Linked DNA regions of Homo sapiens: all the other regions are linked to region 2. Evidence: fine-mapped expression QTL. A gene starts in region 2. Each other region holds a variant in brackets. All regions are shown on one strand. Distances are from middle to middle.

The links. PIP is the estimated chance that this variant, and not a neighbour inherited with it, causes the effect.
Region 1: its variant is fine-mapped to the expression of SEMA6A in testis (GTEx, PIP 0.92).
Region 3: its variant is fine-mapped to the expression of SEMA6A in fibroblasts (GTEx, PIP 0.95).

The regions. Positions count from the first base shown.
Region 1 is chr5:116,458,635-116,466,908 of GRCh38, forward strand. All of the region lies in intron 18 of SEMA6A (semaphorin 6A), which reads right to left. All of the region lies in intron 2 of SEMA6A-AS1 (SEMA6A antisense RNA 1), which reads left to right. Among named protein-coding and RNA genes, the nearest start is that of SEMA6A-AS1, 15 kb to the left of the region's middle. The variant G/A (reference allele first, on the strand shown) is at 4,384.
Region 2 is chr5:116,569,777-116,578,050 of GRCh38, forward strand. SEMA6A (semaphorin 6A) reads right to left here and starts at 5,047. Exons shown (of 19, transcript NM_020796.5): 1 at 4,409-5,047. It overlaps SEMA6A-AS2 (SEMA6A antisense RNA 2), which reads left to right and starts at 4,642. Exons shown (of 3, transcript NR_147170.1): 1 at 4,642-4,763. RefSeq lists enhancers at 2,324-3,105, 7,743-8,274 and a silencer at 4,803-4,882.
Region 3 is chr5:116,165,660-116,173,659 of GRCh38, forward strand. All of the region lies in intron 5 of COMMD10 (COMM domain containing 10), which reads left to right. Among named protein-coding and RNA genes, the nearest start is that of COMMD10, 85 kb to the left of the region's middle. The variant T/C (reference allele first, on the strand shown) is at 3,919.

The DNA.
Region 1 (8,274 bases), 110 kb before region 2:
GTTAGTGGTATCCCTAGAAAAGAAAACTCAAATACGGGTGTGCAAATTCAGGCAGGCAGAGAGATGAAACAGCTTTCTACATGGCTGACATTTAACTTTTTTTTTCCTGCTACCCTTTCCACAATAATCTCATCAAGACCTTAGATAAATTCAGCAAGTTGTCAAAAGGATACAAAATTAATTATATCAAATCTACATCTATGCCCACACTACTGAAAGAACAATTACAGCCTGCCACTTGGGCTTCTCGGCTCTGGACCCTCTCCCCCTGCACACGTTCAAACATGGAAACCCACATCATCCATTTGAGAGCCCAGCACCTGACTTGCTCACAATATCATTTTCCTCAGTCCCTCAAAGAAAAGACGGAGACTACATATAGATTCCTTTTCTCGTAGGTGACCAAGAAATATTAATATAGTAAAAATAAACAGTGGCATCCTGGATTATATTATTAATTAAGCCACCGTGCTCAGCTGAACCCCACTGTTTTAACTAAAGAGAGGAAGAAGTCCAAGTTTGGAGTTCAGCTTGCCTGGGGTTTTACCTAGGATAGAGCTAGATAGGCAAGAAGCATCTACCAGGAAAATGCCAGCGATGTGTAGTAACAGACACTTTAGATCCAAAATTGATGCAAAATTCCATTTCCCAAACTTATTGTGTACATGTAATTAATAACCTAATATGATTAAATGAACAATTTATTATATATGTATCACCTGTCAATCTTGCTATCTTTGTCTTTCCCCACTTCTACCCTCCTGTGGTCCCTTTCTTCCCAACGTCTACCTTCCCATCCTCCACTTCCTGTTGCTAAAGCCAAAACTCCTTGGCATGGCATTTAAGGTTCCAGGCTAGGATTTCAATCTCATTTCCCATTCTAGTCGTCCATACACTTAGTCACCACACACTCCTTGCCTCTTTATTATTACACTCTGTAATTTCACAGTGTGGTATCTTGGTCATGGACTTTATTCAGCTTGGAATGCCCTTCCTCCTGTGAAATCTAACTTTTCCTTCAAGACTTTGAAAGGTCTTTCCTGTGTCCCCCACTTGGAATTAGTTGTGCCACCCCTTAGACTCCCTTAGTACTCTCCCTCCCCCTCTTTCCTTGACTTCCCTTACTGTCAGACTTCACTCTGCCCCAGCATTTAGATCACCTTTGGGTATCCCTCACTAAACTGTAAGCTGTCTGAATATCAGGTTTATGTGAAATTCAAATTAGTATCTTCTGTAACACTCAGCATAAGGTTTACATATAGCACATGTTTGTTCAATTTCTGTTGAATGCAGGAAAAAAGAAACAAAGGAAAGGTTGCTGTCTTGCCTTTCTTTGAGATGAGATTGTCAGCATTATTAAACTATTATTTTTTAGTGCTTTCGGAATTCCAGTTCTACCCCTCCAAAGCCATGAAAATGATAAAAAAATAAAAATAAAAATAAAAAGGAGGGCAGCCATATAATTTAGGAAGGAAAAAGGAATACATATGGTTAACATAACAGCTGTTAAAATTTTGAGGTTAAGTAAAACATAAAAGAACCAATAGTTTTAACCATGCTCCTCTTTAAGAACAATTTGATTTCTGAGCCTTCCTTACTTGAAAGTGGCATTTGAAAGCCTGTTTTCAATAATAATCTTTAAATTACTCTTTATCACATTTCAAACACATATATAATATTTCATAGACATTCTCTGAACTCAAGTATGCTAAGAATATTTTTCGTGGAATAAGATTTTTTCTTAAACATATCAGAATATGGATTATTCTAGATTTCTAAGAGTTAAAGGCCAAATGTAATATATAAATTAGATCTTATATATTCACTGAGTAAGTTATCAGTGACATCTTCTATAGAATTGTCAGGTAGCAAAAAGTTTAAGTACTCTCAGTTAATTCGGATAAACAAAAATGTTTTAGTTAAAAGTATGTCCTATGCAATATTTGCGGTATATTTACACTAACAATTATTTAGTTTTGTTTCAATATTAAAAATATTATTCAGGTGTATCTGCAATTCAAATAAACTGAGCATCCTGTATTTTGCCTAGCAACCCTACTCTTCTTTTCCCAAACAGTGTGCTTTAAATGACTCCCACAAATATTCTTTAAACCCACCCAAACTTTCAGAGGTTAAAATTGTTAATCTCTTTTTTTTTTTTTTTTTTTTGAGACAAAGTCTCCCTCTGTCACCCAGGCTGGAATGCAGTGGCACGATCTCGGCTGACTGCAACCTCCACCTCCCTGGTTCAAGTAATTCCCTTGCCTCAGCTTCCCAAGTAGCTGAGATTACAGGCAGTTTAGAGTAATAAAAATGATGCTAAATCTTTACTCTCTAAAAATTAAACTTTTTAATCTCTAAAAGTTTAGAGCAATAAAAATTATGATAAATCTTTATGGGTCGTGTATAGCACAATTTATAAATAAAATACTGATGAACTAAATATTAAGAACTGTATTTTTCATAGTCAGCAACAATACCAGCTTATGTACCAAATTTCTTACGAACTTTGAAGATGCCTTTCCTCTAACCTTCAAAATCAGAAATAAGTGATCTCTAATTCAAAAGAGTTTTTGGAACCGTCACAATCAATTCACTATCTCTTCGCGTTCCTTGCCTCTGACCATGCACGTTCTACCTGACTCAGTTAATTTTCCATTGTTGAGTGGAAGTGAAAACCCTTACCCTCCCATTATTAGTACTCCCCAAGACAGGAGCCCTTTTTCTGAAGTCTCCTTGAAACTGCCTTGCTCTACTCTCACATTTAAAAACGACTGCAATAGGATCATTTTTACTAATAAAAGGAATGCAAATTAGTATGAGTTTTTTTTTTCTTGAAATAAAGCTTAGGCTTAAAAAAAATAAAAGCCTGAGTTTGCCAACACTCCCACAAAAATTTTAAATATGAGTCTTTTACCAAACATCCATCACTTTCCTCGTCTTCCTTGTCAGGTGATGTGTTATTGCTACAATATTGGTACTGAGGGAAAGAACTGAAGGAAAGGAGCTGAAAAACTGTTTCACAGTTCTATGTCCTTGATGTGTTCAGCCAAGTTGTCTTTACTTGTCTAATATATTTTTTTAAAGTCTGTGGTGTGTGGTTTTGGCATTTCACAAAGAGAATGTTGGTCATAAAGGCCTTTTGGTGTGCTTTTGTGTCTACCTGTGTTCCATCTGTCTGGTGTTTGATATTTCTTGGACAGGAACTACGTCTATCTCTAATACAGCCTCTTACTCTTTATTGGCATCCAAATTGCACCACAGAGCCAGTGATAAATTCTGCTTGAGACACCTCAGAAAATGTTTTTGTTAACGGTAATATTACTGAAGAAATGGCAGAGAAAATTAAGCCCAAGTTTAAGAGTCAGGAAAAGAGGAGAGGCCTATTTTTCTTCCTTTATTACTGTCATCAGGAATAATTTTCTCTGTCCATAAAATCACTTACATATGACTTGATAGGAGCCAAAAAATTACCTTCTGTGTTGGGAGAACCAGGGTGCTTTAAAATCCCAAATCCATTACATTTTAAGCATGGGAGAGTGTTAAAATGTAAGAGTAACCAGGGGGTAGGATCTATGATTAACTATACTCACCTAAAATGAGATTTCTCAGTCTGTTAATAAAGACAGCTGACACTGAAGGCTTGGAACTTAGAATAGGTAAAGTTTGAACGGGAGAAAAGGAGAAGGGTCAAGGGTAAGCTATTGCCAGGCCGGGCAACACTGTGTAGCACAAGAGTCCTTCTGGATATCAGCAAAATAGATGAAAAGTGGAAAGGCTTTTCATCAACTTTCCCTAGGCTACAATTTGAGTAATAACTAGCGGCAGACCACACTAGGGTGCTTGCTGCTGGTGTGGAGAAAAAACTTGCCAGATGCTTAACAAGCCTAGAGTGGCTAATTTCTTATTAGTCTAAATCCATGTTACTTTAAATTTCTATTTCATGAAACTTTCCATCCCCAAACACAAAGCTCAGTAGGTAGCAAAGAAATCAGAAGGGCACTGGATTGTATAATTACAACACTTGGAGTGACGCATGTATTCACTTGGTTTTGCAAGCCCAGCCAGGAGAGGGTATAGTGGTCATCAAACCTCATTCTTCCAAATGTCAGAACAAAGTTCTTGGTAATAGTTTAATCTTCCCTGGACTCCTTCAATTGCTACAGTACACAGTCACCTAAACTTTGGTCATTCAACTACCAATACTACAATTTTAGTCATAACAATGAATCTCACCTACCATATTATTTACTTAGTATTTTTATATCCCTCATAACTCCTGCATTATTTACTTAATATTCTATTTAAATTACCTTTAAAATGTATTTCAAAGGGAAACTTGATATCATTATCACAAATAAAAAAAAAGTGTCACTTTTCAAC[G/A]ATAAAATGTAACCAGTAAAACAAAAATTAACTTAAAGCAAAACAATGTTAATTCCAGCTAGATCCAGTTGGAAGACAAAGCCCCAGTGTAAACCCTATTCTCTCTTTGTCAAAAAGAGATAGTAGCAAGTTTAGGGAGTTGTTAATGAGAAAACACCAAACTGAGACTTTTCCTTTCACATAATCAAGAAGATAACGCAGAAGACTGAAAGAGCATTGAAAAGGGCATAAATTTCCACCACATGACTCAATACTCTTGAAGGCCATCACATCCCTGCCACCTAAATCATGCCATGTAAGGTGCTACTCATCTCCCTCGGAGGAAATACTGCTGTAGGCTACTGCAAATTTAAAGATTAAATAATTAACTATAAAGAGAATTATTGATAACATCTGTGATTTATAAAATTCCATTTAGGATTGTGAGATGTGGACAATACTAATCATCTTTATAGATCTTATGAATCTTACCGGAATATTATTTCCCAAACTAAAAACTGCTTATACAAATAGCTTGTACATTGATTAAAATATATTCAACATTTGCTATCCATTTTAGCTTATTCACTTAATCTCTAATTTAAATTCTGTTTCTGTAATACATCTTATTCTTGTCTTTAATGTGCATATTTTCTGGACTAAATGTAATAATGTGATAATATCTCACTTTAAAGATTTCCCAAAAGATAGAAGCATACTACAACTCTGGCATTTCTGATTAAATGGGAACTGCTCTATATTTACTATTTTGTCTGTTTTCTGAGAGCTCACAAGAACTCTTTATTATAAAATAAAGTCTGAAGTAGGGGATTTTTATTCTATTCAGGATATATTCTTGTGTCCTCATAGCAGTGGTCAGCATTTACATTTTATGTGTATGCTACACAGCTCTCTTGGCTGCTCTGGATGTGGCTGATTTCCTTACATACCTCATAGACTTCTTGGAAATCAGCTTTAAAGTATTGTTACTTTTGGTAAGGAATAAGAGGCACAAGAATAGCTATTTGTTCTCAGTATTGTTTAACCTAAAAAAGAAAGCTCTTATTTCTTTTGCTGTGGGAAGCGGTGGTGGAGAATAAGCCAGATCTAAAAATAAACTGGATTTTCTTTCTTATTTATATGTGATTAGAGCCCCTTTGTAACTACCCATTACGACCTCAATAGTTATAGGAGGAATAAATAATATGTATTTTTTAATGTGGCAAAACCAAGACAGAAGTAGTCAGGGCTGCATCTCATTTATCAACTTGGTGATTAAAGGGCTCGCTCTAGAGGCTCCAGACATCTAGAGAACCAGAGATAAAACAGAGCAGTTGGCTGTGTTTTTACTAATGAATCCAGGGCTTGAAAGATATCAGGCAATTTTAAAGAAAAGCAGCAAGGACAAGAGACATTAGACAAGGCCAGTAGGGTAATGAAGGGCAAGGCCAGTTACTGAGAGAGAAAATTACTTCATTTTCTATGATAATGCTTCCGCGTGCTGTGCAGGTCTCTTCTCACGCTTTGTTAGTATGACTGTATATACATACAGCATCAGAATGCTACTCACGGTGTAGAAGGAAAGAGCCTTGGAACATTCCACAGAGGGGCAGAGGGTTTGGGTCTGTTATTTTGAAAGGGGGAGGCTAAGAACAATGGTAGCAGAAGGGGGTTAGGCTGCAAGGTGAGGAAGGGTGTTTCGACAGAATGTGAGGGACGCACAGGATTAAATCAAGACGAAAGACATAGCAAGGAAAAGAAAGAAAAACGCAGCAAACATACTCTGGAAATGGAGAATTGTTTGGAGGATGAAGTGGACAAAGAATGGGACCAGCTCACTGGCAGTCAGCATATCTGCAGAGTAGAGCCATGGGCATGCCTTGCTCACTGGCATTTTTACCAGTGGCCAAAATAAAATGGGCAATGGACACTTGACTCCTCAGTGAGCTGGTCAGCGGGCACATTTTCTGCTTAGTGAGGAAATGTGATGGATTTTAGAAACAATTCCAGAGTATATTTAGCTCCTAAAGCTGGGGCACACAAATGTCACATTCTCATGAGACAATCGACCCAGTAGAAAGAGCACCCGTCACAGGCCCTTAGAAAACCCATGAAACTCTTGCATCCCGGGAGATGCTGCATACACGGATGTGACATCATTAAGGCACCGACATCAGGGAATGAAAAGAAGCGAGGGCATCACAGATTCGTTCAAGTTAAGGGACGCCATCATGAGTCAGAAAAGGAACAAGACTTTTCCAACGGAGTAACGCCATCACTAAGTCATAACACAGTGCTTGGCAAAATGAAACAAAAGTTGAAAATAAATCATGAACATTAAACAAAAAACAATTTGGAGCAAAATGGAAATTAAAATCATAAAAACTATGATAAAAGGAACATTAAGCTACATCTTTTCTTTAAAATTTCTGCACAACAACTCATTGGCATTGCCCCATCAAACATACAACCAATCACAGAAAAGAAACTCAAATTTGACAGGGCAAGGCAAGGAGTTACTAGCACAAGAACAGTGATCATGTTAAACACCCATGCAGTCACCTCTGCCACCATTGTTTGACAATATGTAGACTGCTTCCAGCTTTGTCAGTATAATAAGACCCAAGAGAATGAACAATGCCGAATTTTAAAATGATGTGTCAAAGTGTTAAATGGACTTTTTGAGAACCTCCATTCCTTGGGGGGAGTTAACGATTAGAGAAAATTCACGCTACCCCTCTCAGTGAAATGAAAAGAAAATTACTGCAACCAACAGCTAGATATTTAGTTGGCATATTTAATGCTTTATTGGAAAGGCTGTTTTATTTTGTTTCAGAAAAAACGCAGTGGGCAAAAACAAAGTGATTTCTACTGAGTTTTCTCTTCTTGAGAATACAGTCAGGACTAGCACATCTGAGGTCAGGAGCCACACATAACAAATAATGGCATATGCTAAGGCTTGTAATCTGTCCGGACAGTTTCTCTTCTACCTGGAGCTTTCTCGGGATGGAAAGAGCAGGGAATCCCTCAAACTGAAAGAAGGAGATGAGACAAAACCAGCTTAAAAAAAAAAAAAAAAAAAAAAAAGATTTGGCCGGGAGCAGCAGCTCAAGCCTGTAATCCCAGCACTTTGGGAAGCCGAGGCGGGTGGATCACCTGAGGTCAGGAGTTCAAGACCAGCCTGGCCAACATGGCAAAACCCTGTCACTACTAAAAAAAAAAAATACAAAAATTAGCCGGGCATGGTGGCGGGCACCTATAATCCCAGCTACTTGGGAAGCTGAGGCAGGGAGAATCTCTTCAACTTGGGAGGCGGAGGTTGCAGTGAGCTGAGATCGCACCACTGCACTCCAGCGTAGGCAACAGAGTAAGACTCCATCTCAAAAAAAAAAAAAAAAAGATTTGAGTCAGGGCTTATTACTAAGAGGAAGTCTATAGAAGAAAATAAAATCAGTTAAGAGGACACGCTCAAGAACAAGACAAAAGGGGCTCCATCTTTATATTTTGACTTGGCAAATAGAGCAGCAGAGTGCCCAGCACTCTCAGGAGATGAGAAGCAAAAAAGCAGATGAAAATGTAGCCTGAGAGTCTGACCGGAAAGCATTGTCTAAAAGTGAAGATGGAGATATGTATGCAGAACACTCTGGGGGAGGGTGCAATAGCGACTGTCTTCCAAGGGTCACAGTGGCTGCTCTGCCCTTGAAACTCAAACTCCCGCTTGGATGAAACTCTTGAAAACATATAGAAGTAAACAATTCTGAATGGGGAGAAACAGCTCAGCAACATAACTGGGCTTTTCAGTCTCTGATTTACAAGACTGTTTTTTGGACAAGTAAAGGCCTCTTTGGTTGCAGCTGCAACTAAAGTAGGATGTGTTACCAGAAGCAGCAAATGGCAAGAAAAGAGATGACA
Region 2 (8,274 bases):
GGAGTTGCCATTTACTATGATGGAGAAGACTATGAGAAAGGCAGATATGGGGGAGAAAGATACAGAATTAGGTTTTTTAAACCTAAGTTTGAGATGTCTATTCAGGAGGAGCTACCTACCCACTAAGCATTGGTTATTTGTGAGGTCCAGGAGAGAGGTCTAAGCTGAAGAGGTTATTTGGGAATCATCTGTGTATTATGGTTTTATATGATACCCTCTATTGGTGTAAATGGAATTATTGTAATAAAGTTTTGCAAGAGCTCATCTGTTTCACAAAGCAAGATACCCTTGTGTATAGACTATATGCAGTAGTCCCATGGTGAGAAGTTGTCCTGAACTCCTCCCCTTGAGGTTTGTGTGGTATGACATCTCATTTGCCCATTTCGAAGGGATTAAATGCCTCCCTCCTTTCTCTATCTTACCATATCCCCAAGAGGCAACCATGTGGTCGCCAGCAGAGAATAGCTCAGTTGCTCTTGCAGCACATTTTAAAGCAGATGAGAAAAGCCTTCACGCTGAAATAGAAATATCTCAGAGAAAACTTGGCTCCAAGGCACCCCAAGAGAGTGGGGGGGGTTCCTGATATGGGAGGGCCCAGCAGAACGCCTCAAGGCATCACCTTCCTCAACATGCACAAATGTGGCTGCCATAACACAAAGCTTCTATATAAATATGTCAAGGAGCACTCCTCTACTCTAGGAGGACAGAAAATTGTCTAAACCTAAAGAAGGGTGTGGAGAGGGGCAGTGCAGAGATAGGCTTTCCTAGGCATTGCCTTACACAAATGGCAGATGCTTAATTAAAGCATTTGCAATTAGCTTAGCTTGTTCTGTGATTCCTTCCTGCAAACAAATAAGATGGAGAGACTATATTAGCTCTTGGCAATCTAGTTCTAAAAAAACTTTCATCCCATCATCACTCTTTTGTCCTGTTCTGAAAAGCGCTGAACCACAATGTACACAGAATAAACTATCTGACTTAACTCCTGGTTCAAAATAGTATTTTTCCTTCCATTTCATATAGGAGTGCAACTACCCATTTACTTTTAAAGCATAACTACTTATTTTGAATTTAATACAAGTTCTTAATTTGGATGCCTCATTTTTATTTGGTGAAGATAACAGTCTTCCTAATTCTTGCTACACTTCTGATTCAACACATTAGACTTCACTAGTGCAATGTTACCCGCCTACTCAAAATACAACTGCTATATGTGTTTAATGTTGGAAAAAGCATTTACTAGATTTTGGAAGAACTTGAGGGGTGTGTGTTGTGTGTAAATAAAAAGGTGCACTTATTGCCGCCTTATCATAACCACTCACTTGAAGGCATATATTTTTTTTTTCACTGTAGGGAAAATAAAGAAGTCCACTTTAAGTGGACAAACATGAACCATGTGTGACTATTTATTTCATTCATTCGACATTTACTTGAGTGTTCTATACTGGTTCTTATAAAATTTTTACCTATTTAAGCTTAGTTGTTATGTCCAATAAGTATATTCAGCTGATGGCTCCTCAGAAATGATTTTCGGTATCTGCTTAACATTTACATATGTGGATTATATGCGTTATTGAAAATGTAGCACATCTCTAAAAGGTGATAGCTGCAAAACCTAACATATGGGGAAGGTTGTCACCCACAAACACTGTACATCAGAAACATAAAGTAGAATGCTTCTTTACATCAAGTTGAAAAATGACTCATAACCAAAAGTAAGATTTTAAATTTGATGTTCGTTCTTTTCTGCTTTAAACTGGTTTGCAAAGTGCCTCATTCAAGAACGTCCCAAAACCAAAATAATAACAGGGAGTAAGGGTTACTCAAGATTCAAATAAAAGTTACCATACAAACAAGCATGGGTAAACCAAATTCAAATAGCTAGTGCAATTATTTTTTAATAGATAGTTTAGGTTAATAGGTGGAGACATAGTTCTGCCACTGTATTTAAGGTTAGGTTAATAATTAACTTTGGTGCCTGGAGTAGTTTAATCAAAGCTTACTGTAAATCATAAAACTGCTCCATGTAGACTAAACACAGCATTAAAAAGTCATACAAAATTCTTGCAATCTTGACCGCTGGTAGCCATTTGGGTACGGTATAAAAAAGTGTAGAGTATTTTTAGTCAGAATTAAACATAGGCATCTTTACTTTGGGGAGAAAACATAATTAAATAATTAATTAAACCACCAGTCCTCCCCGCCATCACTGTAGCATACCACAGACTTGATGCCCAAGATGTGTCCACCAGGGGAAGGACGACGAACAATTTCAGGACTAAAGAAAGACAAGGCAAAGGCACTCGACCTTCCCATCCTGGCAAGACTTAAAAACCAGCGCTGGGGGGCATTAAATAGCTTTTCTGAGACCTGCTGGCACAACACTGCAAGTGGGTTAAACGGCTTTTCAGATCTGAGGTAAAGAAAGTTGTGCGTACAAGGGCGAGTGTGTGCGTGTGTGTGTCCATGCACGCCTGTGTTTTAAACCTTTCACAGATCGCATTCAGTAGCGTAAAAAAGCTGAGCGTAAAAAAAGGAGCGATCCCACTGTGGCTGTGCCTGGCCACCGCAGTTCCAAAGCAGCCACCTTTCTCCCAAAGACCGACGCGAAAAAGCCTGCAGGGCTCCCCAGTGCGATACAGGCCGGAGACTCCCTGGAAGTGCTTGCCCCGGCTGTGAAGACAGCGCCTCCAGTCTCCCATTCCTCTCCCGCTCCACGCACACCTGGCTCTGCTTCCTCCCTCCCTGGATAGCCACGCTGGGAAATCGTGCGCAGGGAGCAGATGGCTCGGGATTCTGCACCTGAAGCTGCCTACTTGCAAGCCACTGAGCCCCGGCCTGTGTCCACACGCACCTTCCCCACAGCCTCTGTCCACAGTGGCCGCACCTGCCTCCGGGGTCCTGCTTCCCCATTCATCCCTTCCCCGACTTGTCGAGCAAGTACCGCGGGCCAGGAGGTTCCACTCTCCAAAGGGCCGGGATCTAGCTCCTAGCTGCATCCCGAGCTGTCCGCATGATTCCCTCCAGGTCCGGCTTCCCTCAGACTGCACATGCTGAGCCCCAGTCCGGTCGTGCCTGCCGCCCCTGGCTTTCAGGGAAACTTTCCAGGAGCGCCTGGTCTAGTGACCCCGCCGCTGTAAAGTGGGAGGAGGCGCTGGGCGGAGGGGCGGCGAGGGAGCGGGAAAAACAGCGGAATTCTGTTTCCTTTCCCGACGTCCACAAGCCCGGGACCGCTCCCTGGCTCCCCCCGTGCCGCTCGGGTCTTGCGAGGAGGGAGGAGACCTCAGGATCCTGTTTTGCACCATCTCCCACAGCGAGGAGCTGAGCAAAACGCGGAGAATCGGGACAAGAGACACTTCCCGCCCCAGAAGGATCAGGCAGGGTGGGTGGGCACTGCCCGGCTTACTCTCCAGCGCCCCATTGCCCCCATGGTAGCGCCCTAGGACACAGTGAGGAGTCGGAACAGAGCCCTAGTCTGGGTTTCAAACCCAGGGCCATCTTCTGCCAGGTCTCTCACCCTTCCCCCTCCTGGGTCATCTTTCCAGAGCGAGACCGCGCTGATCTGGGAGGAGGGCGTACCGTGCGCCAGCCCGGTGCAAAGGGCTCGGTGCTTCAGGAGGGACGCAGCCGCGACGGGCTATATCCTTGCCGCTCGGGTTGGGAGCTGCGGCGGGGGACAGGACCCATGGCGGGGGCGCCGCGTCACCCGAACGGCTGCTCCCGGACACTTATTCGAGCAAACAAAGCCCGGAACCTCTGGTGGCAGCGGCCACAGGAGCCAGGATCTCACCGAGAGACAGGGCGCGCGGGTGCCTAGAGCCATTACAAGTTTCTTGCACTCCACGGAGCCCAGCCCAGACCCCACACTGACAACAAAAGATTCTCTCCGCTTCCACACCGTCTCCGCGGAACCCCTTCTCCCACCTGGCACTGGACGAAAACAGCGCTGTTATACCCAACCCCCTCCAGCCCTCGAGGGCAGAACCCCTTCCCCTGCCTTCGACACACCGGGCCAGGGAGCTTCCGAGAATCCCACCATTTAGGGCCCGCTCTGCTCCCTGCTGGGCACGCGGGAGGATGAGCCTTGGGTCTCGCACACACACCCCCAGGAGGAACAGCCATACGCGCCGTCGCGGCCCGGGGCGGCGCCGGGCGTGTGCGCAACGCGGGTGGGAAAGCTCTCGACGTGGAGCCGGACGCACTCTGGGGCGCAGGGCAGAGAGGAAAGGCAGGCAGGGCTCACGGCTGCTCCCCCAGGACCGGGCAAGGCTCGGGAAACAGAGACACAAGACAAAATAAAACGCAGGCACCACAAAGCCGACAGCACGCGCTAGCCACGGCCCCGGGACCCTCAGGCTGGAGTCCAGCTGCCCGGGAGGTGGGGCGCGCCCGGGCGCCCGGGGCGTACCTTTTCGGTGCATCGACGGACAGGCGGCCGGGGCTCGGAGCGAACTGGTACAGCGTGTATCCCATTTAGTAATCCATTATCGAGGGGATCTCTCCGGGCCGCGGGCTGCGCTCTCTCCTTCGCAAGCCTTTGTCATTCCTACATGTGTGCTTGTCTCTTTGGGGGAAATAGTCGCGGCGACTACTTTCTGGGATGCAAACGCGATGTGTTCATCTCCAATGACGAGCGGAGAAGGGGAGAGGAAAAAAGAAGCCAAAAAAAAAAAGAAGAAAAAGAAAAAGAAAACCAACAAGGAAGAGGGTAAATGTTCAAGAAACTCTTCTCCAAATCCAAATTCCACTTGGATTCCACTTCGGTGAGTCCCCTTGGTGGTGTCTGCGCCGATTAACAAGTCATTTCAGGGCGGGGGGCGGGGTGGGGGCTGGGGCAGGGGTGCAAGGCTCTGGCCCGGCTCTGCGGCCGGCAGCGCGGTGCCGCGGGTGTGGTGATGCTGGCCGCTGCTACACGCTGCTAAGCGGGCATCGCGGGCGACCGGCACCGCGGAGGAGCGCCGCTGCTGGGTTCCGAGCGCCTGGGCAGCCGAGTGCGCGGGGAGCGGAGTTGGCTGCAGCCTCACCCCGTGCCGCTCACTACTCCTCTGTCACCGGAGAGGCCGCCGCTCCCGGGCGGAGCCAAGTCCCGGACTGGATTGCGCAGATCGGACTCTCCTTCCGCAACTCCGCCTACTTTGGCTGGCGTCTCCTCCGACCCAAAGGAGAGCTGTGGTGTATGTGAGTGCGAGTGAGCGAGGCAGAGGCGGAGAAACTACGCGGTGTGGCTGCAGGTGGAGCCTTGGACCAACTGGCCAGCGCCGCTTCCTTCCACCAGGATTCCTGGCCCCACCGCGCGCTAGGCGGAGGCTCAGCGGGGGCGACTCTGGCTGGAGCCCAGCCCTCACCTCCCCCACCCCCACATCTGCTCTAGCTAGGAAAAAAAAAAAGAAAAAAAAAATCCCGGACAGCATTGCTGAGTCCTGCCAAATCAGAAAAATAAATAAAAATAGACGTAGTGCAGGAGCGAGTTACAAGAAAGGTTTTGTTCATCGATTTTCTTAAATGGAAAAGTTTTAAAGGATGAGGGTAAGTGAACGGCGAGCTTTTCTGATTCTGATTACTGTTATCAAGAGGTAGATTCCAGAAGCGATGGACGCTCTACGTAGTTAGATGAATTGGATAGAAGCCGGTGCGGTTAAAAATACACTTGGAAGATAAGAACACAGCTATTAATTACGCACATACACACGTTAATAAAGCATGTGAAGTAAGCAAATAAACTACAGTGCAGAGAATGGCGTTTTTAACGACGGCGATCTATTTTAAAACTTAATGAAGTTCACATTTTGTGGACTGGTCTTAGAAATAAGTAAACTTCAGAAATAACACGCATACAATTCCAGTGAGAACCCAAAAGGTTTATGGAAGAAGAAAATCGCAACCACTTCCAAGGCGCTATTGTTATGATCACATGAAGAATGGCAGGCACAGCCTTCTTTCACCACTTGAACTTTCAATAGCTACAAAGTCTTGCAGTTACAGGCTTGTGCCAACTCGTCGGGCCACACCACGTTCCCCTCCCCCTGCCGCTGCGCCCCGAAATCAACTGCGCGCCGCGGCTCTTGCTCCCCAAGGGGGCTTCGCAGATGGTACGGATCCTAGTCGCAACCTTTAAACAAAGTAACATCGGGCGGCCCAGCAGTTCTCGGAGAGATATTTACTAGTCATGGAGTTGGCTGAGAAAAGCAAGTGCGGAGATCGGGGTCTCAGTCCCACTTAGGCCGAGTTTCTTTATATTGGAAACTGTACCTGTTCCCTAATTGGGACTAAGACCACTAATAAGTCCACGTTCCCTCTTTGGTCGCTTCTCTAAGTACAGACATCTGCTTAAGAGGCTTCACGAAGAATAAATGCACATGGGTCAACACCCATTCCCCCCGCACCACTACCACCACCTGGAAAAGGTAGGGAGAATGGTAGGAAAAAAAGAAAAAATCAGTACCCCTGCTGTTCTCCAGAGCTGTCAGCAGGGGCCGCTATCCCCACCTTTCTCGGGCAAAGGCCTCTATAGACCTGGGGTAGTGGGGGGCGCGGCCCTAGGTGCGCGCGCAGCCCCCGCGGCTTCAAGAGCCAGCCTCGGGAGGGGGTTGGGGAGTGTGGGGCGGTGGGTAGGATTGCGCTTTCCCGCGGGTTGGGTGGGGGCCGGCTCCAGGACGTCTCCTCAGAATCCCGCGGGGTTAGGAGAAGGATCTGGCGGCCAAGACGGCTGGATCCCCGGCTGCGCTATTTAACACCCAGATTTTGGCTGATGACTGCAGGGTCAGTGTGAGCTGGTCCCCTGGCTCGTCCGTGCGCCCCAGGCGCGGTACTGCAGCCCCTTCGAAGCTCCGGACCCTTCGGCCTCCGGGGTTTTTTGTCCCGCGCTCCACCCAACCGGGGTCGCCGAGGCTCCTTCTTCGCTCCCCGCCGCCGATTTACATGCTAATTGTGTCTGGGAAAAGTTCTTAAATTGGCAGAATTAGGCAGAGCAAACGAATTGTTTCACAGGCCGAACTAAATTAATTTCGGGTTTAGCTCCTTCCCTTAGAGAAACAAACAATTAAGTTGTTTTATTTGCTTTATGGATATATTGGAAATGCCCCACAACGAGTTTCAGGATATTGTTTAAAGGGACATTATATTCAATATTAATACTTGCATGTTTAATTTGTAGTAACGCTGAGCCAAGAAGCGAGCGATTAAATTTACCTAATTTAAAATTATAGAATACGAGAGTTAAAGAATTGGAGTCTACTTTTCACAGTGAAGAAATACCACCCAGAATCTTCCTGGCAATTACTAGATCCTAGTCTCACCATCCAAGTAGGAGCCCTTCCTTCTGACCACGTGATATTACATTTCCACCTGCCAGAAAAGATGCTCCCGGAGCTGGAAGAAAAGCCAGCTATTGTCAGGCTCCCGAAACCCCCAGGGGAGCACCTGTGGGGAAGCCAGGCTATGAAACCTCATGATGTCATTTCCCCATAAGTGCGCCTCAGACTCACTTCCAGAAGCCTGCAGTAAGTTTTCAGTAAAACCACTGCCCCTTCAAAGCCTTTGAAGTCTGCAATTTATACCCTGTCCCTTCAGGAAAAGAAAGCCAAAGAGTTAAAGAATCACAGAGTGATGAGAAGGTGACTTCAGTGGTTTTTTTTAAAGTGACGTAAAATGGAGTGTTTGAGGCCCTGGTCTCTGGAGGCCATCTGCGGTTAATGTAACTTAGCTGGTGATCTTGGGCAAGTCACTTATCTCTGTGAAGTCCCAGTGGATTCACCTGTAAATGGGGATTCTTATTCTACTCACTTCCCGAGGAGCTCGTGGATTACATTAGATGATCTTCGTAAATTCGGAGTCTAAGGCTGACACTGCTTTATAAAGATTAAGTGTCACATTGTCATCCTTGCCATCCTCCACATCAGTCCTACCATCACATTTTACAGGAGTCACATGGAAGCACAGCGGACAGAAGTGGCTTGACCTGTGTCAGCGATTGGGTCAGGGCTGGGAGCTACCTGTAACAACTCCCCCTCCCCTTCTTCTTCTTTTTTTTTTTTTCAATTTTTGAGACGGAGTCTTGCTCTGTTGCCCAGGCTGGAGTGCAGTGGCGCAATCTCAGCTCACTGCAAGCTCCGCTTCCCGGGTTCACGCCATTCTCTCTCCTCAGCCTCCCGAGTAGCTGGGACCACAGGTGCCTGCCACCACGCCTGGCTAATTTTTTTGTATTTTTAGTAGAGATGGGGTTTCACCGTGTTAGCCAGGATGGTCTCGATGTCCTGACCTCGTGATCCGCCCGCC
Region 3 (8,000 bases), 400 kb before region 2:
TAGAGAGTGAGCTCTCTGGTGTCTCTTATTGTTTCTTTTTCTTTTTTCTTACCTTGTTATTTTCTAATCTAGTCTTCAGAGAGATGGTGTCTCTTCTTATAAAGGCACTCATCCTAACAGATCAGTGCTGTACCCTTGTGACCTAATTTAACCTTAAATACTTCCTTAGAGGCCCCATCTCCAAATGCAACTACACTGCTGTTTAGGGCTATAACATGAATTTTGGGGTATACAAGAATTCAGTTAATAATACTTGATTACCCTTTATCTGCCCCTGAGAGGGTGGTTCATCTTACCCTTTTTTAGTCAAATCACATTTGGTAACATGAATTGAGGTGGGTCAGCTATGGTGGCAGACTCACTAAGAGTGTCATCCTCAACTATCCTGTATTGCTTGTGGCATACCTAGACATTCTATGGCCGAAAGAGCTTGCATGTTTAAATATTTCTATAGTTTTAGTCCTTGGCACATGGACTTGAGTCCATTTCTCTGTCAAATGGCGATAGTTGTTCCTCAGAGTTGTTACTGGTCATAATTTAAGGGAAAATATATTTTGAACCATAAGATGCAAAGATTGTTTTTTATAAAAATGTACAATGTTCCTTTTTCTATTATTTGTAGAGCTTAAGGACTTGAATCCAGATCTTCTAATTACAAGTATAAGACTCTAAGTAGCCAGACATACCCATTTTTTTCAGGATAATTGGAATTCTCCATAGACAAGCACTCTAGGGGAAGTTCTGGCAAGTTTTATTTGCACCATGTAATGCATTGAAATAAATTGTACCATCTAATAAATTGAAATGCTGTGCGTTTAGCCCTCAAGCTCTGTTAAGGGACAGACTGCCTCCTCAAGTGGGTCCCCGGCCCCCGTGCCTCCTGATGGGGTGACACCTCCCAGCAGGGGTTGACAGGCATCTCATACAGGAGAGCTCCAGCTGACATCTGGCGGGTGCTCCTCTGAGACGAAACTTCCAGAGGAAGGAACAGGCAGCAATCTTTGCTGTTTTGCAGCCTCCTCTGGTGATACCCAGGCAAACAGGGTCTGGAGTGGACCTCCAGCAAACTCCAGCAGACTTGCAGCAGAGGGGCCTGACTGTTAGAAAGAAAACTAACAAACAGAGAAAGGAATAGAATCAACATCAACAAAACGGACATCCACACAAAAACCCCATCCGAAGGTCACCAACATCAAAGACCAAAGGTAGATAAATCCATGAAGATGAGGAAAAAAACCAATGCAGAAAGGCTGAAAATTCCCTAAACCAGAATGCCCATTCTCCTCCAAAGGATCACAGTTCCTCACCAGCAAGGGAACATAACTGGTTGGAGAATGAGTTTGACGAATTGACAGAAGTGGGCTTCAGAAAATGGGTTATAACAAACTTCTCCGAGCTAAAGGAGCATGTTCTAATCCAATGCAGGGAAGCTAAGAACCTTGAAAAAAGGTTGCAGGAATTGCTAATTAAAATAACCAGTTTAGAGAAGAACATAAATGAGCTGATGGAGCTGAAAAACACAGCACAAGAACTTCATGCAGCCTACACAAGTGTCAATAGCTGAATCAAGCAGAAGTAAGGATATCAGATTGAATATCAACTTAATGAAGTAAAGCATGAAGGCAAGAATAGAGAAAAAAGAATGAAAAGGAATGAACAAAGCCTCCAGGAAATATGGGACTATGTGAAAAGACCAAACCTGTGTTTGATTGGTGTACCTGAAAGTGATGGGGAGAATGGAACCAAGTTGGAAAACACTCTTCAGGATGTTATCCAGAAGGACTTCCCCAACCTAGCAAGACAGGACAACATTCAAATTCAGGAAATACAGAGAACACCACAAAGATACTCCTCGAGAAGAGCAACCCCAAGACACATAATCATCAGATTCACCAAGGTGGACATGACGGAAAAAATGTTAAGGGCAGCCAGAGAGACAGGTCAGGGAAGCCCATCAGACTAACAGCGGATCTCTCGGCAGAAACCCTACAAGCCAGAAGAGAGTGGGGGCCAATATTCAACACTCTTAAAGAAAAGAATTTTCAACCCAGAATTTCCTATCCAACCTAGCTAAATTCCATAAGTGAAGGAGAAATAAAATCCTTTACAGACAACCAGATACTAAGGGATTTTGTTACCACCAGGGCTGCCTTACAAGAGCTCCTGAAGGAAACACTAAATATGGAAAGGAAAAACTGGTACCAGCCACTGCAAAAACATACAAAATTGTAAAGACCATCGACACTATGAAGAAACTGCATCAACTAACAGGCAAAATAACCAGCTACTGTCATAATAACAGGATCAAATTCACATGAAACAATAATTAAACTTAAATGTAAATGGACTAAATGCCCCAATTAAAAGACACACACTGGTAAATTGGATAGAGTCAAGACCCATTGGTGTGCTGTATTCAGGAGACCCATCTCGTGTGCAAAGACACACATAGGCTCAAAACAAATGGATGGAGGAATATTTACAAAGAAAATGGAAAGCAAAAAAAAAAAAAAAAGGGATTGCAGTCCTAGTGTCAGATAAAACAGACTTTAAAGCAACAAAGATCAAAAAAGACAAAGAAGGGCATTACATAATGATAAAGGGATCAGTGCAACAAGAAGAGCTAACTTTCTTAAATATATATGCACGCAATACAGGAGCACCCAGATTCATAAAGCAAGTTCTTAGAGACCTATGAAGAGACTTAGACTCACACACAATAATAGTGGGAGACTTTAACACCACACTTTCGATATTAGATCAATGGGACAAAAAATTAATAAGGATACTTAGGACTTGAACTCAGCGCTGGACCAAGCAGACCTAATAGACATCTACAGAACTCTCCACCCCAATCAACAGAGTATATATTCTTCTCAGCACTGCATCCCGCACTTATTCTAAAATTGACCACATAATTGGAAGTAAAACAGTCCTCAGCAAATGCAAAAGAATGGAAATCATAACAGACTCTCAGACCACAGTGCAATCAAATTAGAACTCAAGATTAAGAAACTCACTCAAAACCACACAAATACATGGAAACTGAACAACCTGCTGCTGAATGACTACTGGGTAAATAACGAAATGAAGGCAGAAATAAAAAGTTCTTTGAAACCAATGAGAACAAAGACACAATGTACCAGAATCTCTGGGACACAGCTAAAGCAGTGTGTAGAGGGAAATTTATAGCACTAACTGCCCACAGGAGAAAGCGGGAAAGATCTAAAATTGACACCTTACCATCACAGTTAAAAGAACCAGAGAAGCAGGAGCAAACAAATTCAAAAGCTAGCAGAAGACAAGAAATAACTAAGATCAGAGTAGAACGAAAGGAGATAGAGACATGAAAAACCAATTCAAAAAATAAATTCATTCAAAAAAAAATCAATGAATCCAGGAGCTGTTTTTCTGAAAAGAATTAACAAAATAGACCTCTAGCCACACTAATAAAGAAGAAAAGAGAGAAGAATTAAATAGACACAATAAAAAATGATAAAGGGGATATCACCACTGATCCCACAGAAATACAAACTACCATCAGAGAATACTATAAACACCTCTATACAAATAAACTAGAAAATCTGGAAGAAATGGATACATTCCTGTACACATACACCTCCCAAGACTAAACCAGGAATAAGATGAATCTCTGAATAGACCAATAACAAGTTCTGAAATTGAGTCAATAATTAATGGGCTACCAACCAAAAAAAAGCCCAGGACCACACAGATTCATAGCTGAATTCTACCAGAGATACAAAGAGGAGTTTCCTTCGGAAACTATTCTGAACAATAGAAAAAGAGGGACTCCTCCCTAATTCATTTAAGAGGCCAGCATTATCCTGATACCAAAACCTGGCAGAGACACAACAAAAAAAGAAAATGTCAGGCCAACATCCCTGATGAACATTGATG[T/C]GAAAATCCCAATAAAATACTGGCAAACTGAATCCAGCAGCATATCAAATAGCTTATCCACCATGATCAAGTCAGCTTCATCCCTGGGATGCAAGGCTGGTTCAACATATGCAAATGAATAAACGTGATCCATTGCGTAAACAGAACCAATGACAAAAACCACATTATTATCTCAATAGATGTAGAAAAGGCCTTCGATAAAATTCAGCACCTCTTCATGCTAAAAACACTCAATAAACTAGGTACTGATGGGACGTATCTCAAAATAATAAGAGCTATTTATGACATACCCACAGCCAATATCATACTGAATGGGCAAAAGCTGGAAGTATTTTCTTTGAAAACCGGCAGAAGACAGCGATGCCCTCTCTCACCACCCCTATTCATCATAGTATGGGAAGCCCTGGCCAGGGCAATCAGGGAAGAGAAAAAAATAAAGGGTATTCAAATAGGAAGAGAGGAAGTAAAATTGTCTCTTTTTGCAGATGACATGATTGTATATTTAGAAACCACATTGTCTCAGCCCAAAATCTCCTTAAGCTGATAAGCAACTTCAGCAAAGTCTCAGGATACAAAATCAGTGTGCACAAATCACAAGCATTCCTATACACCAATAATAGACAAACTGAGAGCCAAATCATGAGCAAACTCCCATTCACAATTGCTACAGAGAGAACAAAATATCTAGAAATACAACTTACAAGGGATGTGAAAGACCTCTTCAAGGGGAACTGCAAACAACTTCTCAAGGAAATGAGAGGACAGAAACAAATGAAAAACATTCTATGCTCATGCATAGGAAGAATCAATATCGTGAAAATGAAAATACTGCCCAAAGTAATTTGTAGATTCAGTGCCATCCCCATCAAGCTACCATTGAACTTCTTCACAGAATTAGAGGAAACTACTTTAAATTTCATGTGGAACCAAAAAAGAACCCGTATAGCCAAGACAATCCTAAGCAAAAAGAACAAAGCTGGAGGCATCACACTACCTAACTTAAAACTATACTACAAGGCTACAGTAACCAAAACAGCATGGTACTGGTACCAAAACAGATATATATACCAGTGGAACAGAACAGAGGCCTCAGAAATAATGCCACACATCTACAACCATCTGATCTTTGACAAACCTGACAAAAACAAGGAATGGGGAAAGGGTATTCTATTTAATAAATTATGTTAGGAAAACTGGCTAGCCATGTGCAGAAAACTGAAACTGGACCCCTTCCTTACACCTTATATAAAAATTAACTCAAGATGGATTAAAGACTTAAACATAAGACCTAAAACCATAAAAACCCTAGGAAAAAATCTTGGCAATGCCATTCAAGACATAGGCATGGGCCAAGATTTCATGGCTAAAACACCAAAAGCAATGGCAACAAAGGCCAAAATTGACAAATGGGATCTAATTAAACTAAAGAGCTTCTGCACAGCAAAAGAAACTATCATCAGAGTGAAAAGACTAGCTACAGAATGAGAAAAATTTTGCAATCTGTCCATCTGAGAAAGGTCTAATATCCAGAATCTACAAATAACTTAAATAAATTTACATGAAGAAAACTGCATCAAAAAATGGGCAAAGGATAGGAACAGACACTTCTTAAAAGAAGACATTTATGCAGCCAGCAGACATACGAAAAAAAGCTCATCATCAGTGGTCATTAGAGAAATGCAAATCAACATCACAATGAGATACCATCTCACGCCAGTTGGAATGGCGATCATTAAAAAGTCAGGAAACACCAGATGCTGGAGAGGGTGTGGAGAAATAGAAATGCTTTTACACTGTTGGTGGGAGTGTAAATTAGTTCAACCATTGTGGAAGACAGTGTGGCGATTCCTCAGGGATCTAGAACCAGAAATACCATTTGATACAGCAATCCCCTTACTGGGTATATACCCAGATGATTATAAATCATTCTACTATAAAGACACATGCACGTGTATGTTTATTGCAGCACAATTTACAATAGCAAAGACTTGGAACCAACCCAAATGCCCATCAATGATATACTGGATAAAGAAAATGTGGCACATATACACCATGGAATACTATTCAGCCATAAAAAAGGGTGAGTTTATGTCCTTTGCAGCATCATGGATGAAGCTGGAAACCATCATTCTGAGCAAAGTAACACAGGAACAGAAAACCAAAGACTGCATGCTCTCACTCATAAGGGGGAGTTGAACAGTGAGAACACATGGACACAGGGAGGGGAACATCACACACTGGGGCCTGTCACGGGTGTGGGGCTAGGGGAGGGATAACATTAGGAGAAATACCTAATGTAGATGACGGGTTGATGGTGCAACAAACCACCATGGCACGTGTATACCTATGTAACAAATCTGCATGTTCTGCACATGTATCCTAGAACTTAAATTATAATAAAAAAATCTGTCCGTTGTTTTGTGAATTATCATATTTAAACTCAGTTTCTGGTGGTTGATGTCCAAAATAAGATTTTGCTTAGTGGTATGTCCAGAGCTTACAGAAGAATAACCAAAGGCTGGAAAAATATATCTTTCAGCCCAGCAACTTTATTATAGTACATATGGTAAACTGTGTAGAATGTTAAGGAAACATCCCATATTGGCTTACCAGCTGCTATTTTTATGGCAAGATTTTATTTAATATGTAAGGCTGGAGGGAGGTGTGAGAGGAAAGTAAAGAAAAGCTTTGGATTATTAAAGGTGTGGGAAAGCTATTTACACTGCTTCAGGGATAAATAGGAGGGAAGGAGTACTCAGACAGAGGGAGCGAGTGATTATATGAAGAAAAATACTATGATGATACTAATTGTGTTTTGTAGGAATATGGATGCTGCCTCTTTGTCTCTAAATGTGCTACCCTGAATTACAAGTTACCTTTGGCTTTTTGATTCTACAAAATCATAGGAGCTCCCTGAAATCTGGAGCATTTGCTCAGACTATTGCTTTCTGTTATCTACCCTAGGTCGGAAATATTTAAGTGTTTTTTCTTCAGTCCTACAGAGTTTTAGTCTGATACTTTAGAAAACAGAACTGAGTTCCTATTCGAAAAGATTTACTCACAGTGTTTTGTGTTATAAAGTCATACTCCAGGGTATCTTTTAGAGCAACAGCCCTGAACCAGGCTAAGAGGCATGGAGAAGAGCAGCACAGGGCTTCTGAATCCTGGCTGTGCATAGATGTGGGTTAAAATTAAAATATTACTAACCTTTCCTCATCTGAGATAGTAAGATTTTGGAGCTTGAATTCTTCATGCTTTTTAATTACAAAAAATACGATGAAATTTCAGTGTTCTTGCAAAAATTTGACTAATACAAGAATTGACAATATGAGAGGATGTCTTTAATAATTTTATGTAACACAATCAGATCTTTAACTTTTGCTCATGTAAAGTTTATAAAATTTAAACTGCTTAAAATAATGGCAGTATTAGAATACTGAGATTCATAATAATGTAAATTAACACATATAACCCTTTTTTCTGTTTGTATATTATCTTTTAATATATAATGAAAATGTTTAGGTAGTAAATACTAAGGTTAAGGTAAAGTCATATAATCTTAATTCATCTAACAGCTGCCTGTTGTTTCATATTTATTCCATTTTTGAAGTAGTTTACAAATGAAAAAAATTGTATGAATGCCTTGGCATTAAACAGCAGTTCTTGGAAATCAGGAAATTCCTAAGTTATACTTCCTCTAGCAGTGATATATCAGCGTTATTTCTATGAGTTTAGTTATATTCAATTTTCCAGTTATATATACACCTTTAAAGTGTTATATAAGCCAATTTAAGCAAGTTAGTATTAGAGTAGAAGTGTAAACTTTGGAATTTCCTGATTTTTAACATTTTACTTTCTATGTTATTTTGGTGAACTGGATCATGCAACTTAATTTATACAGTTAGTATGAATATACTTACAAAGAGCTAGATTTTATTTTCAGCCATCACATTATGAATAGCTTTTTTTAAAAAAGACTATTTCATCCTCTATAATGAAGTACTTAGTGTTTGCCATTCACTTTTGGTAGCTTTTAATTTTTACCTCTTCAGCTATGATCTGAAGTCATTCCAAAAGTTATG